Regions from separate parts of the Homo sapiens genome. Here region 1 is linked to region 2. Evidence: fine-mapped expression QTL. A gene starts in region 2. The other region holds a variant in brackets. All regions are shown on one strand. Distances are from middle to middle.

Evidence for each region.
Region 1: its variant is fine-mapped to the expression of DRC9 in prefrontal cortex (CommonMind, PIP 0.95).

What each region holds. Positions count from the first base shown.
Region 1 is chr3:197,908,986-197,918,915 of GRCh38, reverse strand. It overlaps DRC9 (dynein regulatory complex subunit 9), which reads left to right. Exons shown (of 12, transcript NM_032263.5): 8 at 4,874-5,035; 9 at 6,167-6,241. It overlaps LOC124906330 (a long non-coding RNA gene), which reads right to left. Exons shown (of 2, transcript XR_007096246.1): 2 at 8,585-9,930. Among named protein-coding and RNA genes, the nearest start is that of RPL35A, 36 kb to the left of the region's middle. RefSeq lists enhancers at 5,071-5,702, 5,086-6,285. The variant A/GCACA (reference allele first, on the strand shown) is at 5,591.
Region 2 is chr3:197,956,684-197,966,265 of GRCh38, reverse strand. It overlaps DRC9 (dynein regulatory complex subunit 9), which reads left to right and starts at 6,275. Exons shown (of 12, transcript NM_032263.5): 1 at 6,275-6,421; 2 at 6,547-6,737. LMLN (leishmanolysin like peptidase) reads right to left here and starts at 6,049. Exons shown (of 17, transcript NM_001136049.3): 1 at 5,826-6,049. The coding sequence starts at 6,020. RefSeq lists a silencer at 5,991-6,220 and an enhancer at 6,772-7,272.

The sequences.
Region 1 (9,930 bases), 48 kb after region 2:
AATCGCTTGAACCTGGGAGACCGAAGTTGCAATGAGCCAAGATTGCATCACTGCACTCCAGCCTGGACGACAAGAGCAAAACTCGGTCTAAAACAACAACAATAAAAAACACTTCCATGATGCAGTACCTTCTGTTTACCATGGGCAGAAGCTAAAGACTTTTAACTCTGCATTTCTGATCTTCAGACTGTTACTCTGAAGTCTTAATATTCCATTTGAGAAAGAAAAATTACCAGAACATGCTCTTGAGTTTTCAAAAGTATATTTTTGTATGTACGGACACTATTCAATAAATCCCTGTCTAACACTATTTAGATTCTGTGAGAAACAAAACTACAGTTATCAATGTGGGCTGAGGTTTTCTGCAAAAGGCTTTATTTACTTGAGTGATATATAAGGTGGACCTTGAAGGAAATCTAAGGGATTATATAGGTAAAAGGATTCCAGTTGATGAAGAAGTAAAACCATCACATTTTTGCTTTAACTCTAGTCTTCCTAAAGATTCAAACCTATACCAGGCACAGTGGCTCATGCCTGTAATCCCAGCACATTGGGAGGCCGAGGCAGGTAGATTGTTTGAGACCAGGAGTTTGAGACCAGCCTGGGCAACATGGCAAAACCCCATCTCTACCAAAAAAAAAAAAAAAAAAAAAAAAAGCAAAAAATTAGCTGGGTGTGGTGGCGTGGTAGCACGTACATGTAGGCCCAGCTACTCGGGAGGTTGAGGTGGGAGGCGGAGATTGCAGTGAGCCAAGATCGCACCATTGCACTCCAGCCTGGGCAACAGAGAGATCTTGTCTCAAAAAAAAAAAAAAAAGATTCACTGACTGCCATACAATTTGGAAATAGAAGGGAGGGAAGAGGAAGAAGGAGGAGAAATGGGCTGGGCATGGTGGCTCATGCCTGTAATCCCAGCACTTTGGGAGGCTGAGGCGGGCAGATCCCCTGAGGTCAGGAGCTGGAGACCAGCCTGGCCAACATGGTGAAACCCCATCTCTACTAAAAAGAAATTAAAAAATTAGCCAGGCATGGTGGCACATGCCTGTAATCCCAGCTACTTGGGAGGCTGAGGCAGGAGAATCGCTTGAACCCGGGAGGCAGAGGTTGCAGTGAGCCAAGATCGCACCACTGCACTCCAGCCTGGGCAACACAGCGAGACTCTGTCTCAAAAAAAAAAAAGAGAAAAGAGAAATGGGGAAGACAGGGGAGAAGGGAAGTGCGTATAGAAAGAATGGAAGAAAAACAGTGAGCCAAAAGCAGACATCTCTTAAAATTCATTTCATCAACATTTATTGAGCATATAAGTTGTGCCAGGCACTCCAGCCTGGGCAGGATTTTACAGATGAGAAAATAGGCTTAGTGAGGTCCAGTAATTTGCCTGCAATCCTACAACTTGTAAGAGAATATGAAATATTAAGACATATTTTCAAAGGGCCTATAGCATATTCTGTGCCAGAGATGCTCCGTCTCTTAGGAATGATTCCGATCTAGTTGGAATAACTGTCATACAATTAGAATGATTCTGCAGAGTTATATCAAGAAGCTAGTAGACAAAATAACTTGAAGAATTCCGTTCTGATTCATCTTAGGGACCTTTTTGAGACAGGGTCTTGCTCTGTTGCCCAGGCTAAAGTGCAATGGCATGAGCATAGCTCACTGCAGCCTCGGCCTCCGGGGCTCAAGGGAGTCTACCACTTCAGCCTCCCTAGTAGCTGGGACTACAGGCGCATGCCACCAGGCCCAGCTAATTTTTAAATTTTTTTGTAGAGACAGGTTTTCACTGTGTTGCCCAGGCTGCTCTTGAACTCCTGGGTTCAAGCGAGCCTCCTGCCTTGGTTTCCCAAAGCATTGGAATTACAGGCGTGAGCCACCCCACCAGGTTGGGGCCTAATGATACTTTAAGTCAAGCTTGTCCAACCTGTAGCCCGCAGGCCACATGCGGCCCAGGATGGCTTTGACTGGGGCCCAACACAAATTCGTAAACTTTCTTAAAACATTATGAGAGATTTTTTTGTGTGATTTTTTTTTTTTTTTAGTTCATCATTGGTGTATTTTGTGTGTGGCCCAACACAATTCTTCTTCCAGTGCGGCCCAGGGAAGCCAAAAGATTGGACACCGCTGCCTATGCTTGCTTTCCTTAACGGAGGATTTGTCCAATTACCACTTTGTTTTTTCTTCCAATGGTTACTTAGAATTAATTCCCTAGGTACTTGGGAGGCTGGAGAGAGGGGATTCCTTGAGTCTAGGAGTTCAAGACTACAGTGAGCTATGCTGGTGACACTGCACTACAGCCTGGGGGACACGGTGGACCCTATCTCAAGAAAGAAAAGAGGCTGGCTGCAGCAGTGGCTCCTGCCTGTAATCCTAGCATGTTGGGAGGCTGAGGTGGGAGGATCATTTGAGCCCAGGGTTTCGAGGCCAGCCTGGGCAACACAGTGAGACTCTGTTTCTACAATAATAATAATAATTAGCTGAGTGTGATGTCATGCACCTGTAGTCCCAACTACTCTGTAGGCTGAGGCAGGAGGATTTCTTGAGCCTGGGAGGTCAAAGTTACAGTGAGCCGTGATCATGCCACTGCACTTCAGCCTGAGTGACAGAACAAGACCGTCTCAAAAACAACAACAACAACAACAACAACAAAGCCGGGCGCAGTGGCTCATGTCTGTGATCCCAGCACTTTGAGAGACCAAGGCAGGAGGATCCCTTGAAGCCAAGAGTTTGAGACCAGCCTGGGCAACAGAGTGAGACCCCCATCTCTAAAAATATTAAAAAGTTAGCCAGGCATGGTGACATGCACCTGTAGTACTAGCTACTTGGGAAGATGGCTTGAGCCCAGGAATTGGAGGTTATAGTGAGCTGTGATCGAGCCACTACACTCCAGCCTGAGTGACAGAGGGAGATCCTGTCTCTAAACAAAAAAATTTTTTTAATACAAAAGAACTAATTCTACCCTACTTACATGGTTAAGACGAAAGGCAATTGGAGGCCAGGCGTGGTGGCTCACGCCTGTAATCCCAGCACTTTGGGAGACCGAGGCAGGTGGATCACCTGAGGTCGGGAGATCAAGACCATCCTGACCAATGTAGAGAAACCCCATCTCTACTAAAAATACAAAATTAGCTGGGTGTGGTGGTGAGCACCTGTAATCCCAGCTACTCAGAAGGCTGAGGCAGGAGGATCACTTGAACCTGGGAGGTGGAGCTTGCAGTAAGCCAAGATCATGCCACTACACTCCAGCCTGGGCAACAAGAGCGAGCCTCCATCTCAAAAAAAATGTAAAAAGAGAAGAAAGGCGGTTGGTATCTAGAGGAGCAGGTCTCGGGTTGAAGCACTTTTGTTGCTAGTCGTGTGCTTGTTTGCTGTGCCGTCAGGTCCCCTCCCTGTGGACTTACTCACACACTGATTCCGCCCAAACAGTTCTTTTCAAACAAATGTTACCTCCCTGACTAAAAGCTTTCCAAGGATTCCCATGACAGTTGGAATAAAATCTGAATTTCTCAGTTGGGTCTCCGGGGTCCTGTGTGGTGCCCTTACCGACCTCCAACCTCATCCTGTCCTCCCCTCAACCCTCACTAGGCTAGAGCCTCCGGAGCTTTCTTTCAGTTCCTGGAATGTATCCAGGTCTTGATTGCTTCAGGATTTGGGCATATACTTATTCTTTTTTTTTTTTTTAGAGTTCCCTTAACCCTATTTTTCTTTTCTTTTTCTTTCCTTTTTTTCTTTTTCTTTTCTTTTTTTTTTTTTTTTTTGAGACAGAATCTCGCTCTATCACCCAGGCTGGACTGCAGTGGCATGATCTCAGCTCACTTCAACCTCCACCTCCCGGGTTCAAGTGATTCTTCTGCCTCAGCCTCCCGAGTAGCTGGGATTACAGGCGCCCGCCACCACTCCCAGCTATTTTTCGTATTTTTAGTAGAGACGGGGTTTCACCATGTTGGCCAGGCTGGTCTCAAACTGCTGACCTCAGCTGGTCGCCATGCCTCAGCCTCCCAAAGTGCTGGGATTACAGGCGTGAGCCCCCGTGCCTGGCCAAGCCTATTTTTCATGTGGTGGGCTTACCTGTCCTTCAGGTATCGAATGAGCCATCGCTTTCCCGAGAGAGTCCTTCTCAGACCTTCCAGAGTCTAATGTACTCCTCCCTTGTTATTTCCTCCCACAGCCTCTCGAGCCTTCCTTTTCTATCATTTTGCACAATTTTTGGAAGTTTACACATGTGTTTGTCTCTTTTTAACCACCTCTCTTCTATTAGACTGTAAGCTCTATGAGGGAAGGGAATATGTCTGTTTAGATCTCCACAATTTTCCTAGCTCAGTGCCTGGTGCTGAATAAATATTTTTCTTAATGACTATTGAGTCCTCACAATTGCCAAGCACTTGGTGACCTGCAAAAAGAAAGCGTTTTCACACGTGTTCTCAAGGAAACCTAATAATCACTCTCTGAGATACTTCAGGCAGGTTGGGTGTTTGTATGTTTGTGTGTTTGTTTTATAGAAAGTAAAAAGTTGGAGATTTGACTTGGCCAAGTTCACACAGCTGGAGGCCTGGGTGGGAAGTCAGTTCTTTTGATCATTTTGACCAGTGTTCTTCCTACCAAAATGAGAAAGCTGTGTGGGACATACGGAGTACAGCAATAATGTGCCTGGGAACTAATCTCACAGCCCTGATGCGCCCTGATTCTTAGAAATGCTGTGTTACTCACTTTCATCTATACACTTCATGATTGTTGGCTAAATTTCCCATTGTGTGACAGCGGAAAAATAGTTCCAGTTCCTTATTGATTTATACGCATAAAAGGGAACCGTAAGCCGCTGACTGAACTGAATGGAGGTAGAATGTATTTTCAATTTAGAAACCTGGTCTTTCCACTACAGAGTCAGAATGAGTATATTGCTAACCTCAAGGACCAACTGCAAGAGATGAAGGCAAAATCCAACTTGGAGAATCGCTACATGAAAACCAATACCGAGCTGCAGATTGCCCAGACCCAGAAAAAGTGTAACAGAACAGAGGAACTCTTGGTGGAAGAGATTGAGGTAATCCCTGGGACATTAGCCAAGAACCCAGGAGATGGCAATTGAGCTGTCACTCCTGATCCCCTCTCAGCTAACAAAGGAGGGAGACAAAGATTTCCCTCCATCTCTATCGGCAACAGCCCCTCCACTTGAGGTTGAAAATAAAAGCCTAAATGAGGATATGCGTGTTCGCAAGCAGAGATTCCAGTGGGCTGTAGCCTCCATCTCCCGCCTCATAATGACTTTGAAAATTGGCTGCACTTTCTCTCCTTGGTCACTTCTTATTTTGGCAAACCAATCACCATTTTTCTGACTAATTATAGGGAGAGGGCAAAACGAGGTGCTTAGTTATGGCAGGATTTTGCTGCTGTTTCTTTCATCTAACCAGTACCTTTCACTCCTCCAGTAAGAAATACAGCATCGAGAGCGCTGAACTTCGTTCAAACCTGAGTTTATAGGATGAGAAGTCACGGTGAAAAATGCCAGGAGGAAGAAAGAAGTGGTAGATCTTCTTTGAGGGGAATGCTAAATGGCACACACGCACGCACGCACACACGCACGCACGCACGCACGCAC[A/GCACA]CACGCAAAGCCAGGCACTAGTCCCAGCTAATCGGAGGTGAGGCAGTGAGGCAGGAGGATCCTTGAGTTTGAAGCCAGCCTGGGCAACTTCAGACTTCAACTAGGGAGACTCCCTTCTCACAAAAAAGAAAAGAAAACAAGAAAGAGCAGCAGGCAGATGGGAAGAGGGAAGCAGGAACAAACGTCCTTGGGCCGTGGAATCTGTGTGTGGGAGGACTCCTCGCTCTGAGACTGACGTGGCTCAAGGCCACGTCAACACTCTTCCTGGCACTCCGGAATCCCCCTTTTTAAGCCCCACAGCCTTGTGCCCTTGGAGCGCCGTTTCTGTCCTTCAGTGGGCACCTCTGTTCAGCTCACGGGATTGTGCTCGTCTCGTTAGGGACACACGCAGTCCACACAGTGCCGCGCCACGTGGCTCTGCAGTGTTGGTGAACAGGAGTTGCAGGGAACTGAAAGCCCGGGATCCCAGCTGGTAAAGGGAGCCTCAGCTACCGACCGAGCTGCTGCTCTCATCTTGAGAACTTCTGATTCCCAGCCCTGCGGGGAAGACGTACTGGTATCTGATTGTTCTTACAGAAACTCAGGATGAAAACCGAAGAAGAGGCCCGGACTCATACAGAGATTGAAATGTTCCTTAGAAAGGAGCAGCAGGTGGGTCCCCACAGCTTTTCTATGCTTTGACTTTTTTTTTGTACTCTGCTTATACTGAGGAAACAAAAAGAATATTTTGAAGGAAAACCAACCATCATTCTTTCAGCCTAATGAACTTTAGCTCATGTTTTCTTTCAGGGTTATGCATCTGAATAGATATCTTATATAGCTGTAATTTGAGAGAGTGCAGGTAAAATTTTGTTTTCTGCTTTTATCATTGAGCTTACATAAGAAATTTTTCGATTTCTATATTGCTGTATACTCATAATTTTCAAATTATGACTTAATTTATGACTTAAAATTTATTAAGTCAAATTATGACCTACAAATTTATGGGCTGGGCACAGTGGCTCACGCCTGTCATCCCAGCACTTTGGGAGGCCGGGGAGGGTGGATCACCTGAGTTCAGGAGTTTGGGACCAGCCTGACCAATATGGTGAAACCCTGTTTCTATTAAAAAATACAAAAATTAGCCGGGCATGGTGGTGCGCCTGTAATCCCAGCTATTCAGGAGGCTGAGGTGGGAGAATTGCTTGAACCTGGGAGGCAGAGGATGCAGTGAGCTGAGATCACGCCACCGTACTCCAGCCTAGGCAACAGAGCGAGACCCCGTCTCAAAAACAAAAACCAAAAAAAGACATAATTTTTAAATTAATTATTTTTAAATTATGACTATATTTAAAAATTTTTCCCAATAGTATAGTGGCCAATAAATAAAAAAGAAAAATAAATAAAGGCCGGACATGGTGGCTCACGCCTGTAATCCCAGCACTTTGGGAGGCAGAGGCCAGCGGATCACCTGAGGTCAGGAGTTCGAGACCAGCCTGGCCAACATGGAGAAACCCCGTCTCTACTAAAAATACAAAAATTAGCCAGGCATGGTGGCGGGCGCCTGTAATCCCAGCTACTCAGAAGGCTGAGGCAATAGAATCGCTTGAACCCAGGAGGCAGAGGTTACAGTGAGCCGAGATCATGCCACTCACTCCAGCCTGGGCAACAGAGCAAGAATCTGTCTCAAAAAAAAAAAAATTTACTAATCTTTTACACTATAAAAATAACATTCCCAGTTGAGTGAAGATTTTTAAAATTACTCATTGCTTTTCATTTTTTATGTTATTACAGTTTCTTTATAAAATAATTGAAAATTGTGTTTAACGTTCCATTGAATGGTTGTGCCACAGTTTATTTGTTACACTTTTTTTTTATATTTAGGTTGTTTCTAAAGTTTGTTATTATAAATAATGCACTCATTAAAGCTTTGCCCAAAGAACTGTTTTTCTTCATGGCAACTATTTACTAAAAGCCAATCTCAGTCATGAGATTTTTGTTTCAGAGACTAGTATTTTGTGACTTTTAATAAACATTGCTAATACTCTCGAATCTGTGCTGCCGTTAGCAGTGTTGCAGGCAGTAATTTCAAGGTCTCTTCAATATTAGTAGCCATTTTCAATATTTTTCAAAGTCTGCTAATTTAATGAGTTGTTTTATTTTTTATTTTTGCTTATTAACAGGTGAACATAACATTTTTCCACATGTTTACTCAATTTATTTCTTCTTGTGTGAAATATATATGACACGGTGGTTTTAAGAGCATTTTCAATACTAATAACCAAGCTGGGTCTATAATATATCTAAGGTTAGAATTATGTCTAAGTCTACCTGGAGTCTTTCTTTCTTTTTTTTTTTTTTTTTGTTTTGTTTTTGAGATGCAGTCTTGCTTTACTGCCCAGGCTGGAGTGCAGTGGCGTGATCTTGGCTCACTGCAACCTCGGCCTCCTGGGCTCAAGCGATTCGCCTGCCTCAGCCTCCTGAGTAGCTGGGATTACAGGCGCACGTCCAGCTAATTTTTGTATTTTTAGTAGAGATGGGGTTTCACTGTGTTGACCAGGCTGGTCTAGAACTCCTGACCTCAGGTAATCCACCTGCCTCGGCCTCCCAAAGTGCTGGGATTACAGGCGTGAGCCACCGTGCCCAGCCCCAGCTGGAGTCTTTCAAAATAACCCTATTGGATGAATAAAGAGAAAATTTTCCAGCTTAGTTATAATACAGCTTGCCTTTGGAAAAAGCTAATGAGTTTTCAGTCAAGGATTCCAAATGTGTGGTTAAAGAGGAGAATTTGTAGATGCTCTCTTGCAGGTCTTTACTGAAAAAAATACCTGGTAGGCTATTAGAATTAGGGTTCTGTAGCCCTGCACTTTAAGAATTATGTATCATGTTACCTGTTTCAAGTGTGAGATACCTGGCAGGTGTTGGATATTTATCAGTGAGTTGGTAGATAAATGGATCACGAAGGGATGACGCCAGAGTTTCCCAGATCTTCAGCCCAATAACACAAGCAATACATAAGTATATATTTTTTTATTTTTTATTTTTTAGGGACAGGGTCTCTCTCTGTTTCCCAGGCTTCAGTGCAGTGGTGCCACCATAGCTCACTGCAGCCTCAAACTCCTGGGCCCAAGTGATCCTCCCACCTCAGCCTCCTGAGTAGCTGGGACTACAGGTGTGCACCACCACGTCCAGCTACAATTTCAGACAGAAATACATAGGTTAAAGAAAGTGAAAGCCCTCTTAAATTACTCCCCTTTCTGAAGGGAAGTTTCTTCCACATGTATTTCTTTTCATATACATACTTATACCTAAAAACATACCTATTCTCAGTGGTGGTTTTTTGTTTTGTTTTGTTTTTGAGAGGAGTCTTGCTCTGTTGCCCAGGCTGGAGTGCAATGGCGCGATCTCGGCTCACTGCAACCTCTGCCTCCAGGTTCAAGTGATTCTCCTGCCAGCCTCCCGAGTAGCTGGGATTACATGCACCTGCCACCACACCTGGCTAATTTTTGTATTTTTGGTAGAGATGGGGTTTCACCATGTTGGTCAGGCTGGTCTTGAACTCCTGCCCTCAAGTGATCTGCTGGCCTCAGCCTCCCAAAGTGCTGGGATTACAGGCATGAGCCACTGCACCCGGCCTAGTATTTGTTTCTTAAGTAAATTGGATCATGCTATATATAGTGTTCCAGAGCCTGTTGTTTTCTTCTTACATTTACTTTGTTTTTAATGTTTTCTGTAGCAGTACAGCTGATTGATAGAATATATCTCACACTCAGAATATACTGAAATTTAGTGAACCATTCTGTCAGTAGATTTAGGTTGTTTCCAGGTTTTTCTGTGATAACATTGCGAAACCTTCTTGGTTCTGTCTCTAAGTGTATGGTATGTGGAAAGGTATTTCTTTTGTGTATTGCTGTGGATTTGTTAAACCCTCTAATGGTTTTTCAGTGGATTCATTTGGATTTCCTAGGTGGAAAATCTTACTGCATGCAAATAACAATTTTATATTATCCTTTTTATTATTTATATGTCTGTTTTCATTTCATGGCTTGTTGTCTAGCTAGAAAGTCCAGTGTACTTGTTGGTTGTAGTAGTGACAATGGGGAATCCTTTTTCTATTATTGGTTGTTAATACAACACCACTGTTCTGGTGTTTTAGTCAGGATTACACATGAGTTTGTCATAGTCATGCCAAGTTACTGATATGCAAGTTAGAGCACTCACAGGGAAAGAACAGGACCCTGAAACTTGGAATGAGAACACCTGCTCAGATTCGGATGAAACTGGCAAATCACTTTAAAGCTCCCTTGGCAGCGGAAGTACCCTGCCCTCCTGTGTCTGAGGACACCGCACTTCCTTTGCCT
Region 2 (9,582 bases):
GTTTGAGACTAGCCTGGCTAACATGGCGAAACTTGTCTCTACTAAAAATACAAAAATTAGCCGGGCATGATGGCAGGTGCCTGTAATCCCAGCTACTCTGGAGGCTGAGGCAGGAGAATTGCTTGAACCCAGGAGGCAGAGGTTGCAGTGAGCCAAGATTGTGTCACTGCACTCCAGCCTGGGCAACGGAGAGAGACTCTGTCTCAAAAATAAAAACATGCAATAAACAAAAGATATATGTTGTAATGCCTAAAATGCACAAGCACACACACATACACACAGGTAAATGTAGGCAACTGAAAAGATACACATGTAAGCTTGAACCACAAGCAAGCTAAATACACCTATTTTCTCCTGTATTAATACAGTCTTTATTAGGCTAGAACACAGTGGTGCCAACCTGGCTCACTGCAGCCTTCACCTCCTGGGCTCAAGTGATTCCCCCACCTCAGCCCCACCAAGTAGGTGGGACTACAGGTGTACAACACCACACCCAACTAATTTTTGTATTTTTTGTAGACACGGGGTTTCACTAAGTTGCCCAGGCTGGTCTTGAACTCCTGAGCTCAAGCGATTTGCCATCCCGGCCTCCAAAAGAGCTAGACTTATAGGCATGAGTGACTGTACTTGGCCAATAGTTTTTAATAGAGAAAATCTGAAGTAAAGTATCAATCACCTCAGCTTATTAACATGTATAGAAATCTATATTCAATAACTACAGAATAGGCCAGGTACAGTGACTCATGTCTATAATCCCAGCACTTTGGGAGGCCAAGGCAGGAGGATTGCTTGAGTCCAGGAGCTCAAGACCAGCCCGGGCAACATACTGAGATCCCATCTCTAAAACAATAAAATAAAAAAAAACTATAGAATATATATTCTTCACAAGTACACGTGAAAAATTAAACAGGATAGATCATATTCTAAACCATAAATAAAATAATCTCAGCCAGGTGCAGTGGCTCACGCTTGTAATCCCAGCACTTTGGGAGGCTGAAGCAGGAGGATTGCTTGAAACTGGGAGTTCAAGACCAATCTGGGCAACACAGCAAGACTCTGTCTCTACAAAAATAAAAATAAAAAATGTGCCAGGTGTGGTGGCATGTGGCTGAAGTCCTAGCTCCTCATAAGGTTGAGGCGGGGAGACTGCTTGAACACAGGAGTTCGAGGTGGCAGTGAGCTATGATCATATCACTGCACTCCAGCCTGGGTGACAGAGGGACACCTTGTCTCTTTCTTTCTTTTTTTTTTTTTTTTTGAGACAGAGTTTCGCTCTTGTCGCCCAGGCTGGAATGCAGTGGCACAATCTCAGCTCACTACAAACTCCACCTCCTGAATTCAAGCAATTCTCCTGCCTCAGCCTCCAGAGTAGCTGGGATTAAAAGTGCCCGCCACCATACCTGGTTAATTTTTGTATTTTTAGTAGAGACAGGTCTCGCCATGTTGGCCAGGGTGGTCTCAAACTCCTGACCTAAGGTGATCCACCCACCTCGGCCTCCCAAAGTGCTGGGATTACAGGCATGAGCCACTGCACCCGACCAAGACCCTGTCTCTTAAAAAACTTTTTTAGGCCGGGCGTGGTGGCTCACGCCTGTAATCCCAGCACTTTGGGAGGCCAGGGCAGGCAGATTACAAGGTCAAGAGATCAAAACCATCCTGGCCAACATGGTGAAACCCCATCTCCACTAAAAATACAAAAATTAGCTGGGTGTGGTGGCGTGCACCTGTAGTCCCAACTACTCAGGAGGCTGAGGCAGGGTAATAGCTTGAACCCAGGAAGCCGAGGTTGCTCTGCTGAGATTGCGCCACTGCACTCCAGCCTGGGCAACAGAGCAAGACTCTGTCTCAAAAAAAAAAAACAAAAAACAAAAAACAAAAAAAAAATTTTAACCTAAATGATAATTAAAATGCAAAGTGTCAAAATTTGTGAAGAGCAGCTAAAGTTGTACTTAGAAATTTATATCTTTGAATGTTTACATTAGAAGGAAAAAAAGGTTAAAAAACAGTCATCTAAGTTTCCGCCTAACAATATGAGCAAACTAAATCCACAATAAGTAGAAAAAGGAAATAACAAAGAACAGAAAACAATGAAATAGAAACAAACATTAAAGAAAATTACCAAAGCCAACATGACCAAGTAAGGTTTATCCCAAAAAAGCAACGTTGATTTACTATTGGAAAATGCAATGTAATCTACCACATAACAGTTCATAAAGTGAGAAACTATATGATTATCTCAATAATTACCAGAAAAAACAAAAAGCATTTGACAAAATTTGTCCCCATTCAGGATAAAAACCCTCGGGAAACCAGAAACCAAAGGGAGCTTTCTCAATCTGATAAAGGGAACTACAAAAAAATGTAAAGTTAACATCATACTTAATGGTCAGAGACTGGTCCTAAGATCAGGAACAAATGGCAAGGAGGCGTGCTATCTCACTTTTGCTCAGCCTGGAACTGCCTGTCCTCACCAGAGCAATAAGGGGGAAAAAATACATAAATGATACAAAACTACAACAACAAAAATTGTTCCTATTTATAGTTAATACATTGCTAACATCAAAAATTGTAAGGGAGGAAACCCTAGTAGAATAAATAAGTTTAGCTAGGTCTCAGAAGACAAGGTTAATATACAAAAATTATTTCTACCTACTAGCAGTGTATTTTTACATACTAGCAGCAAACAACTGGAAAACTTTAACCATAATTCCACTGACAATGGCATCAAAAAATAAAAGACTTAGGAAAACATTTAACAAAAAACATGCAAGATCTGGCTGGGCACGGCGGCTCATGCCTGTAATCCTGGCACTTTGGGAGGTCGAGGCAGGAGGATCGCCTAAGGCCAGGAGTTCAAAACCCACCTGGACTCTGTCTCAACAAAAAATAAAAAATTAGCCAAGTGTAGTGGCGCATACTTGGGAGTCCCAGCTACTTGGGAGATTAAGGCAGAAGGATCATTTGAGCCCAGGAGTTCAAGCCTGCTGTGAGCTATGATTCTGCCACTGCACTCCAGCCTGAGTGACAGAGCAAGACTGTCTCAAAACAAAACAAAAAAAAAAAAGAGAGAGAAAAGAAAACAGAAGAAAAAATGCAAGATCTATACATTTTTGCTGAGAAAAATTATGCATCACCTCAATAAATGGAGAAACATACATTATGTTCATGGATTGAAAGACTTGATACTGTTAGATGTCAATTATCTCCAAATCATCTATAGAGTAAATGCAATCCCAATCATAAACCCATCAGGCTTTTTTGAAGAAACTGAGAAGCTGACTCTAAAATTTATATGGATCTGTCTTTGAGCCTCCCCCTGCCAAAAAATAAATAAATTTATATGGAAATATAAAAGCCTTAAAATAGCCAAAATCATTTTGAAAAGGAAGAACAAAGCAGGAATGCTTACAATAACAATACTGTCTGATTTCAATATTTATTACAGAGGTACATAATCCAGGCAACTGAATACCCATATGGGGCAAAAAAAAAAAAAAAGGATATTGATCCCCTATCTCACATCATATATAAAAATTAATTTCAGATGAATCATAATCCTAAAAGTGAAGGCTTCTAGAACACAGGAGAATATTTTTATGACCTAGGGGGTATTTAAAGATTTCTTAGAAAGGACATCTGTTGGTGAGGATATGCAGCAACCATAACTAATATTTTGTTGATGGGGGTGTAAAATGGTAGAGTATTTTGGAGAAAGGGTTAGTATTTTTTATAAACATTCACCTACCCTTGACCCAGTAATTTCACCCCTAGGTATTTATCCAAGAACAATGAAAACATATATCCACAAAAATTACTGTACAAGAATATTGACAGCAGCTTTATTTATAATAGCTAAAATCTGGAAGAAACCAAAATACCCATCTTTGAACAAGATAACGGAAAAACAAATTGTGATATAAGTATTCAATGGAATACTCAGCAATTCAAAGGAATAAATTACTATCACATACAACACGAATCTCACAGACATAATGCTGAGCAGATGCCAAATACAGAGGAGTACATACCATATAATTCCATTCAATACACGAAGCTCTAGAATTGGCCAAACTAATCTAGTATTTAAAAAAAAAACAATTAGAAAACTAGTTGCCTGGGGTGGGCAGGAGACTGGCACAGGACAGGAGGGAACGTCTGGAGATGTGGGAACGTTCTATGTTGTGATGGGTTGTATGCTTTATGTGGATGTGCATGGATACATTTGTGGCATTTCAATATATGTAAATTTTACCAAAAAACTTCAAAAGAACAGTAACTCAAGTAGGGGGCTGCGGAATGGCTGAAAGTATATGAAACAAGAATGGCGGAACCTTAAAGCTAGGTGTTAAAGCTAGGTGATGGGTCCATGCGGGTTCATTAAATTATTCTGATGTTGTTTGTACCGGCGTAATAAAAGGTAAAAACAAAACTTACAGGCTTTAGTTGAGAACCAGTTAAAAAGTAAAACTGTTTTGTAGCTCCCCAACACCACCAAAACCAAAAAAGTTATGTAATTTCCTGTAGCATTGAACAGAGGTATAGTCATTAGCGTAACTACAGTGAACACTGTAGCTCCTGGCTATACTCCGTGTCCAGGTTAAAACAAGGAGAATAGTGAGGACGACAGGGTATTTATATACTCTATGAGGAACTAGCGAAACGTATTAGGGACCAGGACTCTTTCTCTTATTTTAATCCAAATTAAAAGAGAGAAGTGCAGGGTTTTGTGGGAAATTTTTTTTAAAGAATTCAGCGAAAATGCAGCATGATAAAAGCTGCAAAAAAGCTATAAACTCCGAAGTTAATATTTTGGCTCACTTGGTTATGAAGAGTATGCATGTAACATTTTGGGAAATTACCATAAAAATGAGTGTCTTTAGATTTCTGGGCTGAATTGAACATGTGTAGGTGTATCAGCATGCAGCCCTGCCCCAGGTACTCTCCCTTTCTCAAAGAATATGGATTATCGTGGACCCACCTCTGACCTAAATACTGTGAAGGAATCAAAGTATGAAACACAAACCTTATCCCACGGAACCTTATAATCTAACTGCAAAGGCAAGATACGCCTAAAAAATAAGCCATTATCCCATAGCAGTACTTGGTTAAATGCCAGGAGGGAGTACAGACACGATGTACTTTTTAATGAAAAGAATATTGCGCTGTGGTGGTTTCAGCAGGCTGCCTTGAGGTTAGGGAATTTGAAATGAGACAAAGAATTTAAGCAGAGAGAAAAATGGGATGGGAGGCGGGCAGGCACTTCCAGAGCAGAGGAACCGGGTAAAGCAAACAAAGTGACGACATAACGTGAAAAGAAACCTGAATTTTGTCTCCAGTGAGCCCCCAACGTCCCACCAACGCCTCTATCTGGCTCTCCGTTCAATGTCTTCCCGAAACTTCAGGTCAGCGGTTCCTAAAGTGGTCCCCGGACAAGCATATCTCACCAACCAGCTGGGAACGTAAACTGTCAACTCTGGGGACTCATCCCAGACCTACTGAGTCACTAAGTGGGGGACTGAGGGCGGCAATCCGTGTTGTACCATGTGCGTCGGGTGACTGTGATGCACGCTCAAGTTTGAAAACCACTCCTCGAGGGCTACTGCTAAGCACAACCCTCCGCACAGAAGTGATACTGTTCTGAGCGCCTAACAGCCAACTTGCAGGGTGTAGGGAGCTGAGAGCGGGTCCCAGGCCTGTAAGAGTCAGGCTCTGCCCCAATTTCGCTTTCTCATCCAGGACACCTTCTCCCAGTCACTATCTCCTACGCCTGCTCCTTCTGGGTGACTTTACCCTGAGAGGGCCCGCTCCCGCCCATGTCGCCCTACCTCAGTGTCAGAGGGGACGTGGTGCCGGCAGGGAGGGGAACTGCCCAAGGAGACGGGAGTAGATGTGGCGCTGGCCCGGAGCCCGCCCAACAGGAGTAAAACGCTTCGGACCCACACAGACCCGCTCCAGCGCCACCGGCTCCGGCCCGGGCCTGAGCCCGAGTAACCCACTCCTCCGCCCCATTCGGCCGCCATCTTCGGGCCGAGCGTCGTTACCATGGAGTGCGTGACGCCTCTGCGCCCGCGCCGGCCCCGCCCCTCGCCGCTGGGGGTAGACGGAGGGCCCAGCCGGCGGAAAGGCGCTTTCCGATTGGACAGCGTCACCCGCTAGAAGTTCGCCGCAGAAGATGAGGGCGGCGATCACGTCCATCGCGTCTCGTGGCGCGAAGCCGGCCAATAAATGCTGTTTGGAGGCCCACGTGAGTGGGGCTGTGGGAGGAAGAAAGGCTAGCGGGCGTTGGCCGTATGTGGGTGTCTTGAGGCAGTTTTTCAGTTCTTTCATTTACCAAAGTGACATGCACCTACTAGGTGCCAGGTGTTTAGACGTACATACAACCCTCTGCAAAATCTTTCAGTGTAGTCCTCTGTATGAAAAGGTGAGTGGAATACTTTCATTTACTTATCCTGAGTCACCAACTTTAGGCCCATTACTTAACTAACGCCATTTCCTATAAAAATCTATGATACACCGTTTACTGTTTTACTCAACTCCATCTTTTAGTTTCCAGCCAAGAATTGCCACTGCACCTGAGATAAGGGGGATCCTGGCCATTAAGGAAACCTTGCCTTCGAAACTGAGCCGTGAGGAACTATACAAAATGGGAAATTGGGACAAATCCCAGTGGCTCATGACACTAAGAAGTAAAATTACGAACTCACTGAGCTGGAAGTCATTCAACGGGAATTGAATAGGTAAGCTACTATACTGGGAAATGAAGGAGTAGGAAAGAAGGAAAACCTCAAGTTACAAACTATGGGTGGAGATTCAGCTACGAGGATGGGGTGGTGTTTTAAGTATTACCATTTTACAAGTAAATACTCACTAAATGTGTGTATCATCCCACAACTAGTGGAAGGTGGGATTCCAAACCACATTTGTAACTTAGGAAACGTGCCCTTTCCACTACAATACCACAAATAAATTGCTATTGTGAATAAAGAATGGAACCAGTCATCCTAAGCTCCTGGCTGTAACAATAGTGTTATGCTGAGGAAAGGCTGTTTCTTTTTTTTTTGAGACGGAGTTTCACTCGTCGCCCAGGCTGGAGTGCAGTGACACAATCTCGGCTCAATGCAACCTCTGCCTCCCGGGATCAAGCTATTCCCCTGCCTCAGCCTCCCGAGTAGCCGGGATTACAGGCACCCGCCACCACGCCCGGCCAATTTTTATGTTTTTAGTAGAGACGTAGTTTCACCACGTTGGCCAGGCTGGTCTCAACCTCATGACCTCAGGTGATCCGCCCGCCTCCGCCTCCCAAAGTGTTGGGATTACAGGCGTGAGCCACCGCGCCCAGCCAGGAGGCAAAGCTGTTTCAATGGTGTAGTGGACAAGTTACCAGCCACGCAAGCCCTTTCCTGTAAACCACAGGACTCCTCCTTTGGCAACGGTGACTTGAGTACTTTTGACTTAATTTCCATATGGGAGGAGAAAAACATAAAAACATACATTTATTATTTACAAATGCTGCATCATCTCAGTAAGGAAGAGCATGTATTTGCTTTTGAGTCTCATTTGCCATTGCACATGTAAGTTACTCGAGTTAAAGTCTCAACCGTTTGTTTTCCCCCGCTTTGCTCAGATGCCTACCACTTACCGTGTGTCTGTTCCACTCAGAATACCATCCACTTCTCCATATGCCTAACCCAGACCTGAAATACCCATCTGTCTTCATGGATATGTCCACAGGTTAACATCTTACAGCTTCCTCAAATTCAACTTTAGCTCCTCCCACAAAACCATCTCCTGATTCCCCAACTTTGTAAATGCACCATTATCCATCCAGCCCCCAAAGCCAGAAACATGTTAGAATTCTCCATTTGAGACTGAAAAGCCCACCTAATTTTCCCTTGTTTATGCTGGGATGCCATTGGGATTTGAAATAATCTGAGCTGGTGGCTCATATCTGTAATCCCAGTACTTTAGGAGAACAAGGCAGGGGGATCACTTGAGGCCAGGAATCGAGACCAGCCTGGGACCCCGAAAAAACATTTTAATTGGCTGGACGTGCCTGGCATGCACCAGATTCTCTGGAGGTTGTGGGCAGGGGATTGTCTGAGCCTAGAAGTTCAAAGGTGCAGTGAGCTATGATCACACCACTGCACTACAGGCTGGGCAACAGAAACCCTGTCTCAAATGAGTAAATTTTAAAATTTCCTGTGAATCAAGTTCTTCAGTGACGTTGTATTACACTCAAGAACAATCTTAAGCCTAAGATCCTCAGTTCAGTACAGGAGACCTCTCATGTGGCATTTTAGTTTTCTGGACTTTCCAGTCAGCCACTTGTGTTCCTAAAATCTTCCTGCCATTTCCTCTTTGAGATGCCGCCCTATTTCTTCCTCTACACTTTACGGTTTTATGTTACGCAGCCAGTATACCTACATGCCTCTATCCCTGAATACCCCGAGTACTACTGATCACATCTACTTAACTGGCACAATGAACACAGTAGGTACTTTTAGCTTATGTTGGCCTTTTGGAGTGGGTGTCCAAGATCAGCACTTCCTCGCGCTGACTGCGTAATTCCCAAGTTCAATTTCATTAGCATTCTAATATACAACTTCCAACTTCCGGCCTTGAAGTACTGCTCACTTCTGGTGAATACAGCATCAGTGCACTTTGTTTGCCTTAAAACCACAATCCTGGGAGGCTGAGACAGAATGGCGTGAACCCGGGAGGCGGAGCGTGCAGTGAGCCAAGATTGCGCCACTGCACTCCAGCCTAGACGACAGAGCAAGACTGTCTCAAAAAAAAAAAAAAAAAAACCACCACAATCCTAATAAATGAGCCTGGCAGAGTACTAACACAAGCCCATGTCCACGAAGCACGGGACTCCAACAATGGCAGCTTTGGCTTGCATACCACCATTGGACTGACCAAACCTTTCTTAGAACTGCCAGTGTGACAGAGGGACCTCTGGGGGAGGGCGTCTTGCTTTCTCTTGGGTCAGTATATCTCACTACCCTCTTTGTAGGTTAGCAGATTTGTAACAGGATGTTACTGGAGGAAGGGGAAGTGGGAAAGCTGGACAGTATTCCCACTCTTTTCCCTTACTACAAAAACTTTCCTTCTCAGTCCTGTCTCCAGGAGATGGAAGACCAAATAACACAACAGCCAGTGTGCTTTTCCTACCCAATCCTTTCTTTCACCCTCTTATCCTAATACATTTCCAGCATGTTAATTCTTTTGCAGCATAGACAAGAGAACCCATACACGCTGCAAAACTGCAAAAGGGCTTAGGTGGCAAACTCCCAGTTTCTTGTTGACATTTTCAGTGCAATTTAAAGATGTTAATTTAAAAAACTACCTGTGCTGTAGAGATCAGTAACCCTCAGGGGGCAGACAAAAAGACTGTTACTGCATCAGTTAGAAATGTAGTACTACCTGGGCAACATAGTGAGGCCCATCTCCACAAATAACTAAAAAGTTAACTGGTTGTGGCTGCACATGCCTGTGGCCCCAGCTATTTAGGAGGCTGAGGCAGGAGGTTTGCCTGAGCCGAGGAGGTTGAGGTTGAGGTTGCAGTAAGCTGTAATCACG